Regions from separate parts of the Homo sapiens genome. Here all the other regions are linked to region 3. Evidence: fine-mapped expression QTL. A gene starts in region 3. Each other region holds a variant in brackets. All regions are shown on one strand. Distances are from middle to middle. Region 1 overlaps RORC (RAR related orphan receptor C). Region 2 overlaps RORC (RAR related orphan receptor C). Region 3 holds the start of RIIAD1 (regulatory subunit of type II PKA R-subunit domain containing 1).

Evidence for each region. PIP is the estimated chance that this variant, and not a neighbour inherited with it, causes the effect.
Region 1: its variant is the best candidate, but not a certain one, in a credible set for the expression of RIIAD1 in skeletal muscle (GTEx, PIP 0.88).
Region 2: its variant is the best candidate, but not a certain one, in a credible set for the expression of RIIAD1 in anterior cingulate cortex (GTEx, PIP 0.55).

Annotation. Positions count from the first base shown.
Region 1 is chr1:151,808,438-151,816,546 of GRCh38, reverse strand. It overlaps RORC (RAR related orphan receptor C), which reads left to right. Exons shown (of 11, transcript NM_005060.4): 5 at 1,122-1,634; 6 at 1,852-1,973; 7 at 2,927-3,059; 8 at 3,201-3,308; 9 at 3,490-3,600; 10 at 5,113-5,222. Among named protein-coding and RNA genes, the nearest start is that of LINGO4, 7.1 kb to the right of the region's middle. RefSeq lists enhancers at 1,106-1,606, 7,201-7,701. The variant C/T (reference allele first, on the strand shown) is at 4,476.
Region 2 is chr1:151,817,262-151,825,370 of GRCh38, reverse strand. RORC (RAR related orphan receptor C) reads left to right here. Exons shown (of 11, transcript NM_005060.4): 3 at 8,091-8,109. Among named protein-coding and RNA genes, the nearest start is that of RORC, 10 kb to the left of the region's middle. RefSeq lists enhancers at 1-517, 2,287-2,786, 2,787-3,288. The variant C/T (reference allele first, on the strand shown) is at 5,033.
Region 3 is chr1:151,717,053-151,725,161 of GRCh38, reverse strand. RIIAD1 (regulatory subunit of type II PKA R-subunit domain containing 1) reads right to left here and starts at 3,640. Exons shown (of 5, transcript NM_001144956.3): 1 at 3,542-3,640; 2 at 3,000-3,076. The coding sequence starts at 3,625. RefSeq lists a silencer at 3,686-3,755.

The sequences.
Region 1 (8,109 bases), 91 kb before region 3:
ATTCCTCCCCGTTACAACCCCTTGTCTCCTCCCCTCCAGGGATGGATGGGTCACCCCCATCAAAGTTCTTTGGAGTCCCCAACTTTAGGCTTTGCTAGAACAAACATCCTCTTTCCAAGGTCCCATACCTCTTCATCTCTTCTTACTTGGAACGAATTCTCCTCACTCTGCTGCCCTCTGGCCCAGCTCCCATGCAGCTCTGGCACCTTCCCCTGCTACCCTGTTGTTGTAGTTCTAGCTCTATCTCCTTTTCTAATCCCCCATTCCCATACTTGGACACAGGACTATAGCCAGGAATGGAAACAGAATTGGCCTGAGAACAACCAGAGGGTGGTCGTGGGGGAGGGCTGGTGTTCCTGGTGCCTTATCCACCCTCCTCACCCACCACCTCCTCACCAGTCTCCCTGCACACCTCCACCACCACAGAAGGAGCCTAGGGTGGAGCTGGGGGGGCATGAGGTGATGAGGAGCCAGAAGGAGCCCGTCAGCACTTTTCAGTGCCCAAAATAACAAAGCAAAAGGAAGCACGCAGGGGTGCAAAGGGGCAGGCGGGGCGAGGGGCTGTGCCCCTACACCTGGGAGGGGTGGCGGGGGGAGTAAAAAGGCAGGAAAGAGAGAGCAGAAGAGGATGTTCAGAAACAAGCCGCGGAGCCCGGGTTGGGCTGTGGTGAGTATCTAGGTCACCAGGGAGCCTGCAGGCCTGACCACAGGGAGACCTGTGTTCTCAGCTCTCCTCTTCCTCCGACCCTCCCAAAGAGGCGAGGTGACCCCAATACAGCTTGAGGCCCTCTGCTCGACCACCCCCAGCCCCAAGATCTGGAGGCCAGAATCCCCAGCCTAGACTCATTGCTTGAATTCTGCCATGATTCAAATCTGATTTAGAACTTAGAAGATTTTGCTTAGCAGATTGAAATGGCAGACTGGACAGACCCCAGAAGCAAACAAGAGTGAGAGGTGGACGGGGTCTTGAGCATAAGTTCCCTAAAGGCTAGAGAAGCTGTGCTTGGAGTCAGCCATTCAGAGAGCAGCAAGTTAATCCTTTAATGACCAAATGCCTCCTGACCCTGCCCTGTGCCATGTTCTCCTGCCTCATAAACCCCTGGTCCCTGGACCTCTTTCAGCTGTCAAGTTCGGCCGCATGTCCAAGAAGCAGAGGGACAGCCTGCATGCAGAAGTGCAGAAACAGCTGCAGCAGCGGCAACAGCAGCAACAGGAACCAGTGGTCAAGACCCCTCCAGCAGGGGCCCAAGGAGCAGATACCCTCACCTACACCTTGGGGCTCCCAGACGGGCAGCTGCCCCTGGGCTCCTCGCCTGACCTGCCTGAGGCTTCTGCCTGTCCCCCTGGCCTCCTGAAAGCCTCAGGCTCTGGGCCCTCATATTCCAACAACTTGGCCAAGGCAGGGCTCAATGGGGCCTCATGCCACCTTGAATACAGCCCTGAGCGGGGCAAGGCTGAGGGCAGAGAGAGCTTCTATAGCACAGGCAGCCAGCTGACCCCTGACCGATGTGGACTTCGTTTTGAGGAACACAGGCATCCTGGGCTTGGGGAACTGGGACAGGGCCCAGACAGCTACGGCAGCCCCAGTTTCCGCAGCACACCGGAGGCACCCTATGCCTCCCTGACAGAGATAGGTGAGCAGCTGGGGAGGTGGAGAGGGTGGTAGAGATGAGGGAGGGGTTTCCACCAGTACCCCGTATCAATCAAACATGCGCCTGAGGGAATTGAGGGGTCCAGACGAGGGGCGGAGGGAGGAGGCGGAGCAGGATAGGCCAGGCTGAGAAGTGCCCTTGCATGGGTAGGCGTAGGAGCTGGCTGAGATCAAGCCATGCCTTCCTTCTCCGGCCCCAGAGCACCTGGTGCAGAGCGTCTGCAAGTCCTACAGGGAGACATGCCAGCTGCGGCTGGAGGACCTGCTGCGGCAGCGCTCCAACATCTTCTCCCGGGAGGAAGTGACTGGCTACCAGAGGAAGGTGAGGCCAGGAGACCTGCAGGAAGGGAACGTATCCCACCCCCACCGGGAGAGTTCAGAGATGGCTACCTGCGCACGACTGGGTCCTGGGGCAGGGCGGGACATCACAGACACAGGCTGGCCAACAAGCATGTGCACACCTTTTATGTACAGTTGCGAATGTGTGTATCTGTCTACACCCCAGCAGATGGATGAGCGCTTTTCCTTAGTTCTTGCCTATTAAAATTGTACCTGGCCTTCATCCTACCTCCTCTACCATGCAGACCTTGGTGCACCCTCCTTCCTCCTCTTCCATCAACAATAACAATAATCAGAACCCTGATTACCATTTGTTAAACACCCCTTCTCTGCCAGGCATTGTGCTAAACGCTTTATGTAAATTATCCTCAGCCCCTACCACAACCAACCTATGAGGGTGGCATTTATTCCTACTTTTAACAGACAGAAACTGAGCCTAGAGGGGTTAATAGGTTTCCTCAAAGTCACAAAGTGGTGGAACCAAAGTCAAATTCAGATTCATCAGGCTCCAAAGTTTATGCTGCCTTTTCGATCACACTCTCATACCACCTGCTCTAAACACACTCGTTTGGCACTTCACATTTGCTTCTCCAGGTTATTGAGACCTTGGGCATAACCTTTGTGGGGGAAGGGGCAGCTGTATGTCCTGTTCACCTCAACGAGATATACCTTGTTGGAGGGCAAAGCTGTATCTCATACTTTTTGGATTCCCTCACAACAGCTAACTCGGTGTCAGCAGCCGGTAGGTGCTCAGTGTGTGGGACTCACTGGCAGGAATCTGTGCATTTGTGCTAAGACCAGGCTTTTGAAAATGCTAGTTGAGAACATAGGAGTTCAGAGCCTACCCCTTGCAGTTTATTAGGTGGGGCTCCAGGGCTCAGGAGGATCACAGGGCCACACAGAGCGCTACAGCGGGACCCTCCTCCCTCCCTGCAGTCCATGTGGGAGATGTGGGAACGGTGTGCCCACCACCTCACCGAGGCCATTCAGTACGTGGTGGAGTTCGCCAAGAGGCTCTCAGGCTTTATGGAGCTCTGCCAGAATGACCAGATTGTGCTTCTCAAAGCAGGTGCCCAGGGATGGGTGGGCAGGCCTGGGGACAAGGGGACAGAGCCAAGTGGAGGGAGGTGGCTTAAGGAAATCAGGGGGACAGAGTCAGATCCTGGCTTTGCTTGACACTGTCCCTGCATCTTCTCTCCCCACTGCCCAGGAGCAATGGAAGTGGTGCTGGTTAGGATGTGCCGGGCCTACAATGCTGACAACCGCACGGTCTTTTTTGAAGGCAAATACGGTGGCATGGAGCTGTTCCGAGCCTTGGGTGAGGGGCAGGGAGAAATGAGAGGGAAGATTCTGATGCCAACCCCAGGCAAAGCTTTGTGACCCAGGGCACCCTCTTTTCAGGGCGAATTGCCCCCTCTGCTCTAAACACAATAAGGGCGGTGTCCTCGGGCACCATCGCTCCAGCCACTCTCTCACTTTTCTCATTTCCACTCCATCAGGCTGCAGCGAGCTCATCAGCTCCATCTTTGACTTCTCCCACTCCCTAAGTGCCTTGCACTTTTCCGAGGATGAGATTGCCCTCTACACAGCCCTTGTTCTCATCAATGCCCGTGAGTGTTGCTGGGCTTGGGTGAAGGACATTCAGGTGGCAGGGGCATGGCAGATATTGAAGAAGAGTCTAGACCTTCAGATGTAGTTAAATCTGGGAAATTGCTTTAAATAGCAGAATGAGCCCTACTCAGTATTGCTATAAAATAAAATGAGTTAAAATAAAGATTCAGAGGACTCTCAGAGAGGGACAAGAGCAGCATAAGGTGGGGTTGTGGGAAGTGGGGAGAAATGAGGTTGAGAGGAAATGAGCCACTTTCCTGACAGAAATGTGTCTGATTGTTAGTCTATGGCAGTGATTTCATTGTAGCACACATCAGAATCACCTGGGGAGCTTTAAAAACTATTGCTGCCTGGGTCCCACTTCCAGAGATTCCAGTGTACATGTGCTCCATGACTTATGATGGGGTTATGTCCCAATAAACCTATCGTAAGTTGAAAATATGGTAAGTTGAAATTGCATTTAACACGCCTAACTTACTGAACACCATAGCTTAGCCTAGCCTACCTTAAATGTGCTCAGAATGCTTACATTAGCCTACAGTCTGGCAAAAGCATATAACACAAAGCCTATTTTATAATAAAGTGTTGAATAGCTCATGTAATTTATTGAATATGGTTCTAAAAGTGAACAGCAGGATGGTTGCATGGGTATTCAAAGTATGGTTTCTACTGAATGCAAGTGGCTTTCTCACCAACATAAAATCAAAAAATAGTAAGTCAACTCATCATAAGACTGGGACCATCTGTAATTGATAAGGGGTGCACTGAATTTTAACAGCCACCCCCAGGCCACCAAGATTAAGAATCACTGCTCTGTGTGAACTAATTTTAAGGCTGTATGCCTATAATAGGAAGACTCTGGATATCCTATCCA[C/T]TCCCCTGGCATGGAGTAGCTGGGCTGAGCCAGATGAATACTAAATATTCAGAGAACCTAGGGAAGTGGGTCAAGCTGCTAACCTGAGTTTGCAGATCGAGACTATCAGTCTTCTGGCTCTGCCAGTGAGTGGACACCTAAATATGCCCTTCAAACTAGAAGATAAAAACTTTAAAGATGACTTCTGGATATTTTATAGAATCAGGGCAAAAGTTAGTCACAGATTGCTGCAAGCCCCCTGGTGCAGGCCTGGGCACCTTCAGGAAGGCCACCTCCTATCAGGAGCCCTTTTCGTACATGGGGGAGCTCTTTTCCAACTCTTGTTACCCCTATGACAGAATCCTAGTGCCTAGCATTGAATGAGCTATGTGGAATATCAGGTTACCAGGGAGAAGGTAGCTTGGAGTCAGGAGATCAGAAATTCTCATACCTTTCATCTCTTCCCAGTTTTCCTTGTAGACAGCTAGCCAAGCCCAACGTCCAGAGCTTACCATTATCAAACCAAGGCACACACATGCACGCGCTCAGCTTAGAAGACCTCTATCCAGCACAGATGTCCACAAAGATACACCCTTTTGTTGGGAGTTAATGTCCATGTTCTTTCTTGTTCTCATTACGGTCCCACCCCCTCCTCCAGATCGGCCAGGGCTCCAAGAGAAAAGGAAAGTAGAACAGCTGCAGTACAATCTGGAGCTGGCCTTTCATCATCATCTCTGCAAGACTCATCGCCAAAGCATCCTGGCAAAGGTAGGAGCAGTCCCTGGGGTAGAAGAGGCCAGGCCCATCGCTAGCTCTGTAACATCAGAGTTTGCGAGGGCCGGGGTCTGTGGGTACAGAGGAGGGAGTGCGGGAGTACCACTCTCTGTTAGAGAGCTTGCATCAGCAGTGGGAACTAAGGGAATGAACAGCTACTTCCACGTGCATAAAGACTGGAAAGTTAGAGGGCCTGGGATTGGGAGGGACCTCCAGGGAACAATTCAGTTTAATATAGCCAGCACTTACCCAGCACCTGCTTGTACAAGGCACTGTGGAAAGACACAGAGATTTGGTCGCTGCCCCCACCAAGAGATTTTAATCTGGTATGAAGAAGAGATCTGTGTATCACTAACTCTAACATAGAGTAGAATGTGGTATGTGATATAATAATAATGCAATTAACAGAGTGCTTTTGCTGACATGCTTTCTCATCCTCATGGCAACCCAGTCAATAGGACAGGTGTTCAAATCTCCCTGTGTAGCAGCCGGGCACAGTGGCTCACGCCTGTAATCCCAACACTTTGGGAGGCCAAGGCGGGTGGATCACCTGAGGTCAGGAGTTCGAGACCAGCCTGACTAACATGGTGAAACCCCATCTCTACTAAAAATAAAAAAAATTAGCCAGGCATGGTGGCAGGCGCCTGTAGACCCAGCTACTTGGGAGGCTGAGGCAGGATAATCGCTTGAAACCGGGAGGCAGATGTTGCAGTGAGCCAAGATTGTGCCATTGCACTCCAGCCTGGGCAACAAGAGCAAACTCTGTCTCAAAAAAAAAAAAAAAATCTCCTTGTAGCTATCAGGAGACTTCAGTGACTTAAATGCAAGATTGAATCCCAGTGCTCTTTGCGCTCTTTCTATCCCTGTGTCCCCTATGTATAACTATAATAAGTGACACCAGGAAAATGTTATGAGAGTATAAAACAGGGATTAAAAATAATTTGGGGGTAAAAGGAGTGGGTCATAAATACTTCCCAGGGAAGATGACATTTATACTAGGCCATGAATGATGTAAGATTTTAACAGGCATTCATGGGGGTGGGGCAGGCATTCCAGGCTTAGGGAACAATAGGAGCAAAACAAAAAAAATGAAAAAAAATCCTTTTCCTGAGGTTTAACCAAAAAAATGGATGAGATGAGTATGAGAGGCTGGGGATAATTGTTTTATGGGATTTGGGTGTGGGACTAGGGTACAATGAAGACCAAGAACAACAGGAGAAAAATAAGGAGGCAAAATAGTGTGTATGTGGAGAATCACTCATGGTACATCCTCACTAAAGTGTAAAATCAGGAGCTGGGATAGACTGGTGGGGCAGAAGAGCACCAGATGATCAGCCTGAAAATTAGGTCAGGGGCAAATCAGAGAGGACTTTCAATGCCATATAAGCGTTAAAGCTTTATTTCTAGGCCACAGGGAGCTCCAAAGGCTAGAAAAATGACACAATCAGAGCTGTCATTTAGGCAATTTACTTTGGAACCAGTATAAAGGAACCATTTATGTAATTATTCAAGCAGGCCTTTGCTATGTGCCAGGCACAGGGCTGGGTGTTAAGGATACAGCAATGACTTACACGGTCTGTGCTCTCAAGAACTTGAACTTTAATCTGCTACAGGATGGATTTGAAGGAGGAGAGACAGGAATCTGGGAGAGCAATTGGAAAGCACATCCGGTTGGATCTGCTTTCAAAATACATCACCTTCCCTACTATTACCACCACCCTGGCCCCTACCAGCTCTCAGCTTTCACTTGGACTTTAAGAGAGGCCTCCTAACTGAGCCCCTGTTCCACCCTCATCTGCCCTGTAGCAACCACACCTACTCCGCACCCACGGTAGCCCTTTTAAAAATGCAATCTCATCATGCCCTACTCCTGTGGTTTTTTTCTTGTTTTTGTTGTTGTTGTTTGTTTGTTCTGTTTGTTTGTTTTGAGGCAGACTTGCTCTGTCGCCCAGGCTGGAGTGCAGTGGTGTGATCTCGGCTCACTGCAACCTCCACCTCCCAGGTTCAAGCGATTGTCCTGCCTCAGCCTCCTGAGTAGCTTGGATTACAGGGATTACACGCCCGGCTAATTTTTGTATTTTTAGTAGAGACAGGGTTTCACCATGTTGGCCAGGCTGGTCTCGAACTCCTGACCTCAGGTGATCTGCCCACCTTGGCCTCCCAAAGTGTTGGGATTACAGGCGTGAACCACCACACCTGGCCTTGACTCCTGTTCTCAGCCCTCCTGTAGCTGCCTGTGATGCCGAGAATCAAATCTAGAGTCTGCGTCATGGTCAAGTGGCTCATAACATGATCCCTGCCTTCTTTTCTCACTTGATCTTCCACTGCCCCTTCAAACACCCATTGCAGCCACACTTGCTTCCTTGCTATTCCTCGAACACATCAAACCCAGTCGCAGGGCTTTTGTACCTGCTATTGTAGTCACCTGGAGGGTTCTTCCCCCAGTTTTCCAAATGGCTTACCCCATCTCTTCATTCGGGAGAGGTTTTTCCTGACCAGTAACCCCATACAAAAAGCTTTAGTTTTCTTTAAAGAACTTATTATCTGATACACTACATATTTATTTTCTGGGCCCCTCACCAGAATGTAAATTTAATCAAGGTACAGATTATACTTTATTGACTGATATATCTGATATATCACTAGAGGCCATCACAGTGCCTAGCTCAGATCCAGATGTGTTCTCAACAAATATTTGTTGAATGAATGAAGGAAGCTATTGCCATAGCCCAAAAAAGCTCAGAATAAAGCAGTGGTGAGGAAGAGAGAGAATCTAGGAGATATGAAGGGATCACACCCTGCTGCCTGCTTTTCTCTGACTGCCTCTTTCCAAGGAAACTAAGCTGGGGGAGGGAGGCAATGGCAGGCAAGAGACATTTTT
Region 2 (8,109 bases), 100 kb before region 3:
CCCAATCCAGGGACATGAGGACTATGTGGAATCCAGTCAGGGTGCACCCGGGCACATGCCTGCGTGTGTGTGCATGTGTGTGTGTGCGTGTGTGTGTGGGGTGTGTGTGTATGTGTGTGTGTGGTTCTCCAGGGTCAGTCACCCATTTGACCGGGGAAGCAAGGCAATGGAGATGGGATTGGAAAGACCTCGGCCTCACCCTTTTCCTGGCTTGGAGCCCTGGGCCAACAGTTGGTGGGCAGATGTCTGGGGTTCCTGTGCCTTCCAGCAGAGCAAGGGTGGGCAACCTCAGGAAGTCCCCTGTATTTGTTGTGAAGGGAAGCCAGGGAAGCCAGAGAAGCTCTCAGAGCACAAGGTGAAGGAGGAAAAGGGAAGCCCCATGCCCCTGTGGCTGAGGCCTGAAGCAGCCCCAGCTTCAACCTGGGGTCTTCCCACAAGCCACAGAAGGGAGGCCGTATTGAGTCCTGGAAAGACCCCTGGACTGACAGTGTAAGACCAGGCACTTGTGCCGCCTATCACTGGCTAGCCATATAGACTTAGACAAGCCAAGTCACTGGGCCCTGGTCTACCATCCGCAAAACAAGGGAGCTGAATTTTAAGATAGAACAACAAAACCAACTATGGAGAGTCTCCCATTCCAAAGGCCCAGGGCCAAGAGAGAGCCCAGTGCCCTAAGGCAGGCATCCCCAAGGGTGATGATGGAGACTCAGCTCTCCCAGAGGTTAGAAGGAAGGGAAACCAAGGAAAGAAAAGAATTCCACTTCTGTGACAGGGACTGAGGCCACAGTGCAGGCATATGAGCTGGGGTGGATAAGGAGGGCTGGAGAGAAGAGCCAACAGCTTCTACACAGAGGAAAGGGCCCCTTGGAGCTTCCGTTTCCCTTCTAGCTTCTCTCTATTAGCAGCAAACGCTGGCAGACTGGTCTTCCCAGAGATGGCCCCTAATGAGCAAATCAACCCTGGGATGAAATGACTAGGTGTGCTTCTAGCCCAGCAGCGGGGCAGGAGTCCCCAGGAGGGGCTGAGGGAGACACTTGGCCAGCTCTCCATTATTCCCACCCCCACCACACACACACAGCCCCACCCAGGCGGGGAAGTAGGAGAGAGGGCCTCCTCCAACGAGGGGGTCAGTGCCACTGGTCCTTCTCACTTGGACATTTACAGGTATCTCATAGCCCCAAGTTATCTGACCCCAATGAGTGCCAACCACCACCAGCCCCTCCAACCGCCGATGGCAAAAGTCAAAGCACATGGGGCTTGGGACTGTGACACACCCAGAGACCAAGGGCCCGACAAAAGGAGCAGAAACAAATCAAGAAATAAGGAGAGATGCAGAGGCCCAACTCAGAGGGCGAGTTTCTGGAACACCTAGGGAGAGAGTAATGTCCAGCTGGAGGTGTGGTTGGAGAAACACCAATAGAGCCAAACGCATGGAGGTGCAGCCGGGCGTGGTGGCTCATGCCTATAATCCCACTTCAGGAGGCTGAGGCTTGAGGCCAGGAGTTTGAGACCAGCCTGGGCAACAAAGTGAGCCGCTGTCCCTACAAAAAAAGTTTTTTTTAATTCGCTGGGCATGGTGGCGTGTACCTGTAGTCCCAGCTACTCAGGAGACTGAGGCAGGAGGATCGTTTGAGCCCAGGAGTTCAAGGCTGCAGTGAGCTATGATCAATGTCACAGCACCCTAGCTTAGGTGACAGAGCGAGACCCTGTCTCTTAAACAAACAAACAAACATGAAGGTGTGAAGCCCAGAAACAGAGCTGGAATGCAGAAGATCACAAGGCACATAGACACAGGGAGAGGCGGAGAGAAAAGATAACTGGCAGTAAAGGGAAGACAGGGAGACACAGGGTCTAGGCAAGCGGTAAGAGGGAAGTAGGGTGGCTCTGACAAGGATGGCACCAGCACCCTGCCATCCGACCTGCTGCTGTCAAGTGGAGATAATGTGTCTGTACGCCAAAGAGACTCCCAGCCAGCCAGACGGAGGGTAGCCCAGACATCTTCCCCTAAGGGCATGGCCAGCGTGGCGCCAATAGGCACTCAGGCCCTGGCATTTGGTCTGGATGGGGAGGTGGGAGGCCGAGGGGTGTGAGGTCACTGTCTATGAGCTGATCTTTCTTAGGTTTGGTCATGATCATGAGGAACAGTGGGCCAGAAAGGACTCCAAGTCCCCAGGGTACACAGATATCACCCTGAGAGCCCAGGGCCATCTTAGGACTCCGTGAAGGGCTTCTTCCTTCCTTTCATCACTCCAGCACCCTTCTCTTTCCCCGTCTTCCCATTCCTAACAGAAATACCAAACCACCGAGCCCAAGGTGCTAGACTCTGAAAAGACTCAGCTTGTCCCAGCACAATGAAAATATTCGGTCCCTACCAAGGGCTCCTCCCCATCCCCTGCCGCTGTGCTGCTGACTCAAACTAACAGGGAACAGGACTTTCCAAGGGCTAAGGTCTCTCCCAGGCGGGCAGCCCAAGGCCCGCGCTCCTGTTCCCATATAGCTAGTCCTTTCTGAAGTCTCACCTCCACGCCTGCTGCTGCAGTGCAGCCCCTTCCCTGGGGCTCTGAGGCTCAAAAAGGATGGAGATGTCTATTTCGGGGGAGGGACAGTAACAAGGCAGGGCCTCAGGGCCAGAGCCAAGGTCTTTCTGGGTCCACTACCCTCCTGGAGCAGTGAAGGTGCTCTGGGATGAGGGACAGATGGCCCTGAAGGCAGGGAAGGTGCTGATGGTGACGTCTGGGCTCCCACTCGCCAGAGCTTCCTCCTAGTGATTCATCCCCTCCCCCATTCACTGGTTGTTTTCACTCGCCTTTCTCCAGTCCCAGACTGTGGGGGTGGCGGAGGCACCAGGAGGGGGTTTCGGGTGGCTGGCTGGCTGTCATTCATGGCTTTTCAAAACCCCAGACTCTCCCTCGCCCACCTGAGTTTTAGCTTCACTATTTTCTCAGCCCCAGGATCTGGGTGTTTCAGCAGAAAATTCTCACCAGGAGCTGCGGTGAGGGCCCTGGCCTGGGCTGGGGGTAGTGTTCGCCAGGTAGAACCACTTCTCCCCCAGCCCCCACCCAGCCCTCCCGCTCCTGCTCCCCTGTGGTGGCACCCACCACCTTGGTTTCCAGCTTTGCAGAAGCTGGGGGAACTGAGAGCTGAGAAAGGAGGGAGGCTGGTGACAGGTTGGGGTGTGCAAGTGACCCCTGACCGGAGCTGTGGTCTCGGTGGGGATCGAGACAGAGAGTTCTGGCTGTGGGGAGAGGAGGAGCTCAAGCTAAGGAAAGAGATGCATTCCTCTTTCTCACTCATTCATTCATTCTGCAAAGGGAGGCATACCAAGATGTATGGAAACCTAGTCTATACCCTAAAGGGGCTGTGGTGTTCCTGAGGAGTCCCCGGGAACCCTGTTGTTGATATATAAGTCATCCCACTTGGCCTTAGAGAAAGGGGTAAGGGCAGGAGGAGGCTGGGACCTCAGAGGAAGAGTTGGGACAGAGGGAATAATATCTCTTGGGATCTTTATACAAACAGGAGTCCTGGCTTTAGTTCTGTGGGTTTCCTCTGTGAATTCTGTTCCTAGACCACCACAATCACCTCACACTTTTACCCCTACAGCCAAATAACCATGTCCTCTACCCAGGTCTCCGGTGTGCATTTGGGCGTCTTATCCTCATAAAGTATATAGCTTAAGGCTTGAGGGCACTGGCTGCAGAATTACAGAGATCTAGGTTCAAATGCCAGATCTGCCACTTCTGGCTGTGTGACCTTAGTCAAGCTGTTTATTCTCTCTAGGCCTCAGTTTTCTCATCTGTAAGATGAGGATGATACTAGCAGGGCCTATTTCACAGGGTGGTTGTGATCATTGAATGAAAATGCATGTAAAGCCTGGCACAGAGTAAGAATTCAGCCAATGCTTATGTCTATCATTATCCTTTCTCCTTAATCAGTATCCACTGGAGAAAAAGGAGAGAGAAAGAGGAGAGGAAAAGGCCCAGCTCTAGATTGACGAGGCACCAGGAGGAGATGAGGACCCCGGGGTTTCTCTGTGTGAACCCATTCTCTACCATGATGGTGGGGGGGTGGTGGTTCTGGGGTTTGAGAGGAGAGATCCCCCTGGGTTGCAGCCCCTCCCCTGCTCCTACCACTTCCTCTCTGTGGCATAGGGCACCTGGACAGGGCCCAGGGTTGGCTTCCTAAGCTGGCACAGGGCCAGGCTCTGGAAGTACTCAAAGCACTATCATTGAATCTCACAGCTGTGAGAGGCTCGATTAGAGGAGGATGGAGGACTTTGCCTCTACCGTATTTCCCCTCATAGGAGGAGCTACTAGGATGCTCCTGGGGGTACTTCAGTCTCTAAAGCAATTCAGAGGAGATTCAGTTTCTTTTTCTAGTATTGTCTCAGAATGAAGTCTTAGAGGTCACACTGGATGGCAGAAAAGATGCAAGAATGAGCTCAGGAAAAGATCGCCAACCCCAGCCCCACTCCCTGGAAGGAGCAGCCTGGCAAAAAGGCAGGAATAGGGACTAAGTTCTTGCTACTCAAAGTATAAGCTGAAGACCAGTAAGCTTAGGCACCAACTAAGAGCTGACCAAAGTGCAGAATCTTGAGTCCCACCTCAGATCCCCAGGTAATCTTGTTTGAGATGCAGAAAGCCATAGTCATTCAGTCATTAGATGACTTAAGGAGCTGGCGGGTGCATTTGGGCATTTGTCTCTCCTTTTGGAAGATGTGGAATTGGAGTTTTCTTTTGGAGAAAGCTCTCTCTCAGGAGAGAGCTACAGTGAGAGAGCTGCAGGTGAGATGCAAAGATCTTTCCAAGACAGCAGGCGAGGGTAGAGTTAGGGCTGCCATGGGAGCAGTGGTGCAGGGGCTGGTTCGAGGTTCCTGACCTTTGCTTGGCTCTAGTTCCTGGCACTGGCAGGCCCTTAGATGGTAAGTTCCTGGCAGGCCTGGCTCCAGGGCAACAGTTTGAGTAATCCTGTGATTACTCAGCTCCTTCTCCCCAATCTGAGTTCCCACCACCTGCTGCTTCAGGGACGTGTCTCC[C/T]AGGGGTAGCTTTTGAAGGTGAGTTATCATCAGAGGTGTTTTCAGCTCCTCTCACCAACCCCCAAGTCTACCAGCCCCCTTCCCGTTCTCCCCCACCCCTTCTCTACAAGTAACACACACCCTCATGTACACAGCACTGGTACTTTCTTTCTGAGGTTTGGGTGGATGGCATTGAAGGGAGTGCAGGTGGCAGGGGAAGGAGGGGGGAGCAGGACTAGAGGGCCTGAAGTGCTGAGGGGGCCATGGGTTGGGCAAAGGCCAGGATACAAGCGTGGATTTTCTGTGTTTCAGTGTTTCCGCAGCCGTCTCTCCATCCCTAGATCTATGTCTCTGTTTTTCCTGGACCCAAACCTCTTGGTCTCTCCAGCTCAGTGAGGCTAGGGGGTCTGACATTCTAGCTCAGAGTCTTTGGCCTTGTGTGTCTGTCTCACTGGGTACTTCTGTCTTGGACTGGGAGGATGGAGGATGGGCTGACCAGGTGGCTGGAGTCCAAGGCTTTGGTGTCGCCCAAACATGGGTATTTGCGAAGGGGGTCCTTGACTGGCCGCATCTTCCTATGAGAAGGTCAAGGTCTTGGTGACACTGTTGTGAGGTTCCTAGGGCCAGGAGAAGCAGTGGGTCAAGCATGGGGCAGGGAGATGTGTCTGGGGTCACCATGTGGTCAGCACACACACGCACGCGGATGTGGCTCTTGGAGAAGGGAAGAGGCAGGGAGGCCTGTGGTTGACTGCTGGGCCAGAGCCCGAGTTCCCACTGCGGCTTGGCCTAATCTCCCTCCCGCTTACTTTTTTGGGTGGCCCACGTTGGTTTCTCCCATCTCTGGTCTTAGGCCACTGAAAAGAGAGATGCCACAGTGTTGGAGGGGGAGGTGTTGGGCAAGAACAGAGTCCACAGGGCCCGAGTGCTCCTCTCAGCCTTGCCAGGCCCACTGGTCTTCTCAGCCTGACCTCTGCTCAGGAGTAACTTGAATACACAGTGCTTTCCATTGGTGATATCATTTCATTACTCTCTGTTACCTACAATCACCCCATGGACAGGCAATAATACTTTTATCCTGATCTTGCTGACAAGAAAACGTAGGTCTAGAGGGAGAATCTAAGTGACTAGAAGTATGGGGGCCCCAACGTTTTCTGCCCCTGTTCCAGACACCCAGTGCCCTCTTATTCTCTCTTCCCCTCCATGTATTAAAATCTGCTCTTAATTTACTGGAAAGAACCTGGAAAACTCACTTACCGCCTGGTCCTGGGGGGACCACAGCTTACAGTGTGAGCACTGGAAGCTTGCTGCTGGGCAGGCACGTGTGGCTGGGGGTTGGGTGAGGAATTGAGTGCTAATGAAGGGATTTCAGATACCCATGTGCCCTGTCCCCGTCAGGGTCAGCTACTGCCTCTGACTCACCTCAAGTCTGGCCTGAGGGATGATGGTTTAAGAATGATGGAAATAATATTTTGGGGAATGGCGGGCAAGCCATGGTCTCCCTGCCCACTTCACATCAACAGGCCCTACATGTGACCAGTGTCCAGGCCAGGGACTGGAGGTGAGATCACAGCAATGTGCATTCGCCCTCCAGAGAGGCTGCCACTTCTTTTGCCCCTTTGGTGGGAGACACGTCATAGATTAAAAGGGGCTTTGGCCCTTCTCTTCACTTTTCTGGCCTGTCCCGCCCCAGGGCTCCCCACTCAGAGGGGAGGCAGCAGGTCAGTGATGGTGGAAAAGAGACCCATGTGCTCTGGGAAATGCTAAAAACACCTACAGTAACCAGGGATCCCAAGCTTTGCCCAGCTACCTTTCAAGGAAGAGCTGGGAGAAGGCCTCCTGTGGTCCCATGAAGCTCAGCAGAGAGTCGTGGGCATTGACAGGAACAGGGCAAAGCAGAGATGAGCTTAGGGCCAGCAGCAAACCACAGGGGTAGGGAAGCAGGTACAGGTTACAGTGAGTTCAGTGGGAGAGAGAACCCGGGGTCCTAGTGCCCCATGAGCAGACACTAACATACAAATATGCACGTGTGGACGCAGGAGCAACCAGATATGTCGTAGGCTCACAAATGACACATACTTTTCTTGCATATGCACACCCACAAGCACACCTTCAAACATGCCCACTGAAATGTGTACCCGAAAAGACAGGTACACAGAACAGCATAATGGAAAGCTCAGGGGAACTGGGATGTAGATCCAGCTCTCAGGCAAACTAGCCTATGACCCTGGCCCAACCGCTTTGCCTCATCTGGCTTAGTCCTTCATCGGTAAATGAAGAGGTTGAATGAGATGGTCTCTAGTCTCAGCCATTTTTAACATTGATGATTCATGTTCACACAAATGGATACAGATGCCTTTGTACAAACATAAGTGTTCACACTCAGACACACGGATGTACACAAAGCCACCCTCTCTCTGCTCTGGGGCCAAGAGCCTAAGAGCCCTGGCTAATTCTTTCCCTAGGCTCTCAGGCATCCAGCAGAGCTGGGGTGTTGAGCCCCCGTTTCCTGGGTTCCTCCCTGCCACCCCCTCACCCTGTCTCTGTATAGCACCTCCCTGAGCCTTCACTGTCTGGCTGGGAAGGACTGGCATCTCTGCCTATCCCCCACCCCTTGTGTACCACATCTTCCTGCTATACCCTACACTTTGCCCATGGGAGCTGAGCCCCAGCGAGGGAGGGAGGCACAGAGGAAGCCCCTTCGGCGGGAAGCAGGTGTTGTGAGGCCGTGAGGAGTCCTATGTCCCAAGGCGGGAGGGAGGCAACTGGAGCTTTTCAACTCGAAGGGCTGAGCAGGTGGCCCCTCTGCAGCTGCTTTCTCTGCCTCCATAGCACTGATACAACTCCCGGCCACCCCTCCACACTCCCCTCCTCTGTGAAACAAACACAGCTTCCTCACACCCTTTGCTGAGAAGCATTTGGCATTTCACTTCCCCTTCCATTTTGCAAGAGGGAAACAGCAAGCTGGAGCTGGTTGGAGAAGTAGTGGAAGCACCAGGTACCTGTATCTGCAGCCCAGGTACATGGTGGTTGAATGCAGAAAAGCCTCCTGGGCTGACCTACTTCTCTTTCTCTCTTCCAGCACAAATTGAAGTGATCCC
Region 3 (8,109 bases):
TCCAGCCCAGATGACAGTGGGAGACTTCGTCTCCAAAAAAAAAAAAAAAAAAAAGGCGAGGTGCGGTGGCTCATGCCTGTAATCCCAGCACTTTGGGAGGCCCAGGCAGGTGGATCATGAGGTCAGGAGATCAAGACCATCCTGGCTAACGCAGTGAAACCCCGTCTCTACTAAAAAAAAAAAAATGCAAAATAATTAGCCGGGCGTGGTGGCGGGTGCCTATAGTCCTAGCTACTCAGGAGGCTGAGGCAGGAGAATGGCGTGAATACGGGAGGCGGAGGTTGCAGTGAGCTGAGATCGCACCACTGCACTCCAGCCTAAGCGACAGAGCGAGACTCCGTCTCAAAAAAAAAAAAAATACTTTCTACAATTTCATACCTGGCTATCTATCATATCTGCAGCACAAAACCTGAGGTTTCTGTGTACCTTAAAATAAGTCAGATTCCTACTCTTTCCATTTTTCAGGTCCAAAACTCAAGGTGTTAAGAGTTTGGTACGCTGTATTTACCAATATAGGCTGGAGAATTGTGGCTGAATGGCCATAAATCATTAGGATCTAAAAAACCCAAGTGGGGAGTTTGCTTCCCAGAAAGAACCCTTCAGAGCTTCTTTTGGCTTGGAATGTATCAACAGCAGATATCTGCAGAACAGACAAGGACAGGCACGGTGCTCAGGACTCTGCCCTCACTTCTCCCTTCTTCTTTTCTCATAGGAAGGACCATGTGAGGTGGCCAGCAGGGACAGAAGCTGATTCTGGTTCATCCCGGTACCAATCAAAGGGAACAATGACACCAAACAAACAAAAGTAAACCCTAAAACTTCAAACACTAAACCCTCTGCAAGCTCCACCCAGGAAAAGAGGTCAGAAGAATTTCAGGTAGAGTAGCTTTAGGGACAGCAAAAAGAAAAACCTGGTGGCCTACCTGGCCTTGACAGGAACATGGTAAGAAAGGAAAGGAAGTATCTGGGGCTGTTCCCACAGCAGCCAGTCTCAGATACCCAGGCTGCTCCTGGAAACTGTTCCTGGACAAAGAGAGAATCAAGGCCATCTCTGACAGGTGACTGAAACAACTCATTCTTATTCATCAACCCCAAGCATTCTAATCCTGTTGTTTGTGAGCAATGCAAATGTTGATTTAGTTTCAGCTTTTAACTTCTATCCCCAATCTCTCTGCTGGAACTACTACTAACTTGGAGAGCAAGCTCCCCAGGATAGGAACGATATCATCTTATTTCCCTTTAGAAGAAAAGTTGCAAAAGGTGACGGCCTGATCCTCAGGTCTGATATTGACAGAGGATCCCTAAACTCTCTTTTGCCCAAGGCTTATCCCTGGCCAACCTTCATAACTGGATAGGTTTCAGTTTTCTCTGTTTCCTTCCCCTATCTGCCCTCTGAGAATTTGTTGCCACTTGGAGAAACGTCTATAATATGAATAGTGAGTTTTTTTAATTTTTATTTCATGAGATAGAATCTTGCTCTGTCGCCCAGGCTGGAGTGCAGTGGCGCAATCTCGGCTCACTGCAACCTCTGCCTCCCAGGTTTAAGCGATTCTCCTGCCTCAGTCTCCCAGGTAGCTGGGATTACAGGCACGTGCCACCACGCCTGACTAATTTTTGTATTTTTAGTAGAGACAGGGTTTCCTCATGTTGGCCAGGCAGGTCTCGAACTCCTGGCCTCAAGTGATCCACCCCTCTCAGCCTCCCAAAGTGCTGGGATCACAGGCGTGAGCCAACGCATCTGCCTGGCCAACTTTTTTTTGTTTGTTTGCGATGGAGTTTTGCTCTTGTTGCCCAGGCTAGAGTGCAATGGAGCAATCCCAGCTCACTGCAACCTTTGCCTCCTGGGTTCAAGCGATTCTCCTGCCTCAGCCTCTCAAGTAGCTGGGATTACAGGCATGTGCCACCACGCCTGGCTAATTTTGTATTTTTAGTAGAGACGGGGTTTCACCATGTTGGTCAGGCTGGTCTCGAACTCCCGACCTCAGGTGATCCACCCGCCTCGGCCTCCCAAAGTGCTGGGATTACAGGCATGAGCCACCTTGCCTGACCTCGCCAACTTTTGAGAAGACAAGGGAGGGCCCACCTCTGGCTATAAGCACACAGTCCAGAGGGGAAATGGGGACCGACTGCTTACAGCACAATACAGTGGGAAAACCAGGGGTTTGAATCCTGGTTCAGCAACTTTGGGAAGGTACTTCACCTTTCTAAGCTTAAATTTTCTCACTTATAAAATAAAAATGACAATCACCTGTCTTTTGTGGAGGTGCTGGGAGGATCAGCAAAAGTGTTCCAAGATGCCACACACTGCGTGGGCACTGAGAACACAAACACACTCCACAAGCTCGGAGCTTTGGACCAGTAACAGAAGATTGACAGCTCAATTACAATACAGTGTGGTAAGTGCTAATGTAGGGGAACAGCACAATGCCTGGAGATGGGTGCCATTATAATTATTTAAACCTTGTCTATTTGTCTATAACCAAACAGCATTTGAGATAGCTCTATTGTTTTCATCCACTGATGCTCCGTGATTTATTTTTTTAATTCTCCTTCTTCATCCCATTAGGATATGTTTCCATTCAAGCAAATGCCAGGCTGAAAGGAGGGTGGGGGAAGGAAAGAACATATTCCAGGATACGCTGGTAAATTGTCTTCTCTTCCCCAAGAAAAGAGTGGCTTCCAACCCTTGGAATTTTTCTACAGTAATGTTTTCAAGTAGGGAAGGGCCAACCAGACAACTGATTTTTGTTTTAAGTTCAACTAGTGATTTTGTTAAGCTCCTATGGTTGAGAATAGTGTTCTACACCCAGTGGATGGCTGTTGGGTTTCGCAACGCCAAATTCCCTCTTCCAAGTGTCATAAGGTATGTATTTATCCTTATGGTTAAAGTAAATGAATAGACATATTTTTAAGAATTTAGAGATAACTGAAGGAAACCTCTAGAGATAACGAAGAAAACCCTGCGTGCCACAAATCCCAGAGCCTGGAAAACCACCTACCTGAAGAAACCACTTATGAGCCACTCTACTTCTTTGTGGGTCCTTAGGTACTTTTCGTTAGCAATCCGAGTCTGAATCTGGGGGGCAAGAACAAAGGGTCACTTCCATTAGGAGACAGATTCAGGGTTCAGCCCTGGAGATGTGAAGGGCTGCGGGAAACGGCGTGCGCATTTAACCCAAGTCTTTCCCCAGGATGCTTGAAAGTTTAAGCCACCCATCTTCTTACAGATAAAATATCATTCTGCCGCTTGTTCAGGATGAGGGGCCTTTACTAAGGTCGGATGTGTCTGGCAGTAATTTCGGCCCATTTCTCTGGCCGAGTCCCTGAGTTAGTTCTTCCTGCACTCTCAGATGCCCGTCGCGCTCTGTGCTGGGATCAGACGCCTAGAGGTCCGCCGGGGGTCTCCCCTGCGCCCTCCCCACTTTATCAGGGAACAGGCTCCCGCTCCCCTTCTCTCGGCGGCTCTCTTCCCAGTCTGGGGCCCCAGTCCTGGGGCAGCTACACTTTGGTGGACGCTGGATGGGGGCGCGGGCGCACCCACCTTGAATTTTCGCAGCTGCTCCAGCTGCGCTGCGCTAAGCGCCCCGGGGTCGGGCCGCTGCAGCAAGCCTGGCAGCGTCTCCATCTTGCTGCGGTCGTCAAGGCGACCGGCCGCGAGCCGGCGAGGCCCCGCCCCCGGCCCCGCCCTGCCCCCAAGCCCGGCCCCTTCAGCGAAGCAGGGGCTAGGGGCTGAGGGAACTGAGGGGTGAGCTCCGGGGCGGGGGCTTGGGGGGTGGGTCTCTAAAGGATCGCCTTTCCCGGATTGGGGGACTGATTTCTGGACTTAATTGTATGTGGAATGAGCCCTTTTTGACCCCACCCAACTTCAGGGTTTTTTTGTTAGCTCTAGAGTAAAACAGGAAAAAAGGTCTCCCCGAATCTGCTTCCAGACTCCCTCACTTGGACAGAAGCTAGAGGAAGCCTAGTACTGGGGAAAGAGAACCCAAGCTTCTTCCCTTTCCACTGTCCCAGAAGCCAACCCGTCCCTCTGTCCGGTACACATTCGACACTGGAGCCGTGGATTCTTCAAACAACGTGGAAGCACCCCAGAACATAGAGTGAGCTGAGTTCTGCAAAGGAAGGAACGTTCTGTCCGACTAAAGATGCTGGAAAGGACCTGGGGGACATTCTGCCAGAATTTCCCCCTCTTGGACTGACTTTTTTGTGTAGATTAACTTTCTCTTCACCCTGGGCTCCTCATAAATTCTAAATTATTTTATTCCACTCCCAACTGAATACGGGAGGAGAAAGGGAATTTGGTCTTCAAGATTTGTTCTTCTAGTATCTAATTAAGAAGAGAAAGTGAAACATAAAGCCAGAGAGCTGAAAATAGCCACGAGAAAGGGCATGAGCCTGTCTGTCAATACACACATGCCGAGCTCCTACCCCCACAGAGATCGTGCTCAGCAGAGGCCTTCTGAGAAGCAGGAGAAAAAAGGGAGGCTGTCTTTTCAGATTTGTGAACAACTGCCCTAAGGAGCAAGAAAATACCATGAGAAACAAGCTCAGCATTAGGCCCTGGCCGTGGAGGGGTTATCATTGGTCTGCTTCTGTCCTTTCCAGCAAAGACTGAGGAAAAGAAGTGAAAGTGTTGGCAGTTCCCAAGCCAGGGAAAACCACAAGAAGTAAATTAGGTAGTGGGCTACAAGCCACTTCCCAGGAACCCCATCTTGGTTAGTGATCATTTTGGTTGATTGTCTTTTTTTAAGAGAGAGAGTTAATAGAGTGAGAGAGAGATAAGCTGCCATCTGTCAGAAGTGATTTTTTTTTTCCCGGCAGGAGCAAGAGGTTAACCAGAGATAATGGTTCCTCTTGGCCAAGATCTGTCTTTTCTCCCCATACTCCCTCCAGAGAAGCTGGTGGTGGCACCTCCAGAGCTGTGCCAGCCAGTACAGTCACCACAAGCCACCTGTGGCTCTTGAACACTTGAAAAGTGGCTGTAGGTGTTAAATGTGCAGCAAATATAAAATACACACAGGATTTTGAAGGCTTGGTATGAAAAAAATCTCATTAATAACATGTAATTGATTTACATGTTGAAATAGTATTTTGGATATATCAGGTTAAATAACATTTATTATTAAAAGTAATTTCTCTTGTTTCTTTTTGCTTTTATATATGGCTACTAGACATTTTTAAACCATATATGTGGCTTGTATTATATTAGACAATGCCAGAGCCTGGACCAGCAAACCTACACACTCAAACACACACAGGCATGCACAGTGTTCTCTACCTCCCCACCTCCAAGTAGGAAATGATTGATACCCTCCGTCTGCCAATCTGTGATCTTCTTGTGCTTTGATAATCAATCAAGCCTTTCTTCACTGATCACATCCTATGACCCAAATGCCCATGTATGAGAGGGGCTACTTTTTGTTTTTTTAACAGCGTCTCAGTACTCACTATTATGTATTGTGTTGGCCTGTCTTACCTTCCACTTGAGGTGGAAGCCACTTGAGGGCAGGAAGGTTATAGAATCAATTCTTTGTGCACTCTCATAAATTCTGCTGCAGATGTCTTCACTCTGTATTCAATCAGGGAAGCCAGTAAGTACTTCATGACTAGCCACTCTGCCCACACATACCACCACATTTTGCCCTTTCTGAAAAATATCCCAATTATCCAGCATTTCTCATTTCCTAAGAATCTAAAGCCAGGATCAGAGCTCTCCCTTTATAAATTCAATAATCTTTTTATGTAGGGCAGCCTAGCTTTGACTGCAGAGGAATAAAAAAGAGGGTGAGCTTGGGGGTGGTGGGCAGAGAAAGTATCCTGGAAGCCTCTCTCTCTCCTAGAGAGAAACTTTCCAGAATAGGCATCTGAGTCTCAGGGCTCCCCTGCCTTTACCTCACAGGACTCCCATCCCATGGCCTGAAAGAACACCAGAGATGTGTTCACCGTCACTCAGCAAGGAGAGTCTGATGAGTGGTACAACTCTTCTCCTCTAAACCCTGCCTCTTCTCTCAGACTGACACCTTTGGGGACCACAAACTAAGCAAAGGACTGGACGCATTTTGCTGTCTGCAGCTGTCTCCCCAATTACTGACTGGGAGGAGGAGTGAGGGGAGTTCATTTTAATTCATTTTTGTGAATGTTTAATATTTCAATTAATATGATTAGCCCCAAGCCTGAATGAGCAGCAGGGCGGCAGATCTGCTGAGAAGACATAGAGTAATGAGATCAACAGGGCCATAGGGTCTTCCCCTTCTCCATCCTCAGAGGACATGATCTGTTTAGCATCTCCATAAATACCAAGATCAGATTAGAAGGCAAGGAAAGGAGCAGTGGGGGTGGGGTAGGTGAGTGGAAAGTTACTTTCAAGATGTGTGTGCCCTTCTTGATTCCCTGGCTCTGCCGTCATTCGCTTCTTCTGAGCACCCACCACTGAGTCCTCTAGCACCTCCCCCCACTGCCACCCCATCTTAGGGGACCCTACTTGGGGGACCCGGGCATCCATGTGATGAAGTGTAATCAAGTCTACACACATACACATTCACTCAAATGCAAGCACCTGCCAGAGCGTGGCTCCAGGCCACAACAAAAAAACAGGCTAAGGAAGGATGGGAGGTGGTCCACAGAATCAAGCAGTAAAAAGAAAGACTCTCTCTCATCCAGGGCTTAAATGGAGACAGAAGAGGAAGAAAGGCCAGACTTCACCACTGCTCCCATTCTCAAGAGGAATGTTTGATGTGGGAGTTAAATGCGTGGACTCAGGAGCCAGACTGCCCAGGCTCCAGTCTCAGCTAGACCTCTTTCTAGCTGCATGGCTTTAGGCAAGTTATTTCAGCTCTGTGTCTTGGTTACCTCCTCTCTATTTGGAGATGACAAAATCTACATCATAGGGGGGTGGTGAGGGTTTAGGAGTTAGTAAATATAAAGCACTTGGCACAAAGCCTGGGACACTGTAAGAGCCATGTAAGCACTGGCTGTTACTATTATTTCCCTTCCAGAAGAGAAGCCTGCCTGCCGTGATAGCTCAGGAATGGAGGCCCCTGGGACTCAGCTGGGACACAGTTTAGAGACACGAGTGCCTCTGTGGAAACAGCAGCCCTACCCCGGGGGAGAAGAAGGGAATGACAGGAAGACAGGGTGCTCTACAAAAGCCCAGAGCCCCAGGAGAGCCCCCGTTGCTGAGCACTGACAGAAAGCAAGGGCTACCACCACTGACAAGGTTTGATGTCCACAGATAATCCCTGCACTGAGGGCGTGCTCTGAGTGGGCCCAGTGCATGGAGGGGTCACGCTCCCTCCAGATCGTGGAGCCTGCCAATCATCCATAGAAGTATCCATGGTCAGGGGAGCAATGGTCCCCGAATGTGCCTCCCCTGCTCTTCTGTGCTACCTGGCTCAATTTGAGTCCAACTCAAAGAACCCAACTGAAGAAAGAAGCAAAGGAAAGAGTAATTGGGTTTCTGCATCCTAAGGGGAAGCTTGACAGCTGTGGTTCTTCCCACTGAAGGAATCAGGAATCCACTGTTGTCAGAGGTTGTTTGCATGGAGTGTTTGTTAAGCTCCTGCTACGCATGAGCAAGACAGGGTGCTAGACACTGTGAACAGTAAGATGCTGAATTAAACGGTGTCCTGGTCTTCAAGGAGCTTACAAGTGAGAGCGCCCGCGGCGCCGCCTCCGCGGCCTCCCTGCCCACGCACTTATACACACAAACCCCCCAGAGGGAGAGAAGGGGGCATCGGCAAATGCCAGAAAGCTATCGTTTTTCTTGGTTCCTTTTCTGGAAAATATACAGTTCTCTTTCTGCATTCTTCTCATCCTGCTCCTCCTTCTCCACGTCCCTTTCCATTTTTCCTCTCTGCATTTTTTCTTTTTCCCCCAGACTCTGCGACCTGCTTCCCTCTCCATCTATATCTCCTTTCCCTTCAGCCTATGCAACCGTCCTTTCTCATTTTTCTTTCCCCTGATTTCTTTCCTTGACTCTCTACTCTTGGGGCTCCCCAGATGCCGGGCTCCCCTCTTTCCCCGCCACCCCCCATCTGCTGAGTCTTCCAGCACCGGGGACAGCTCCAGCCCCCGGAACAATGGACCCCACTTTAGGGTTCCTCTATAAATTCT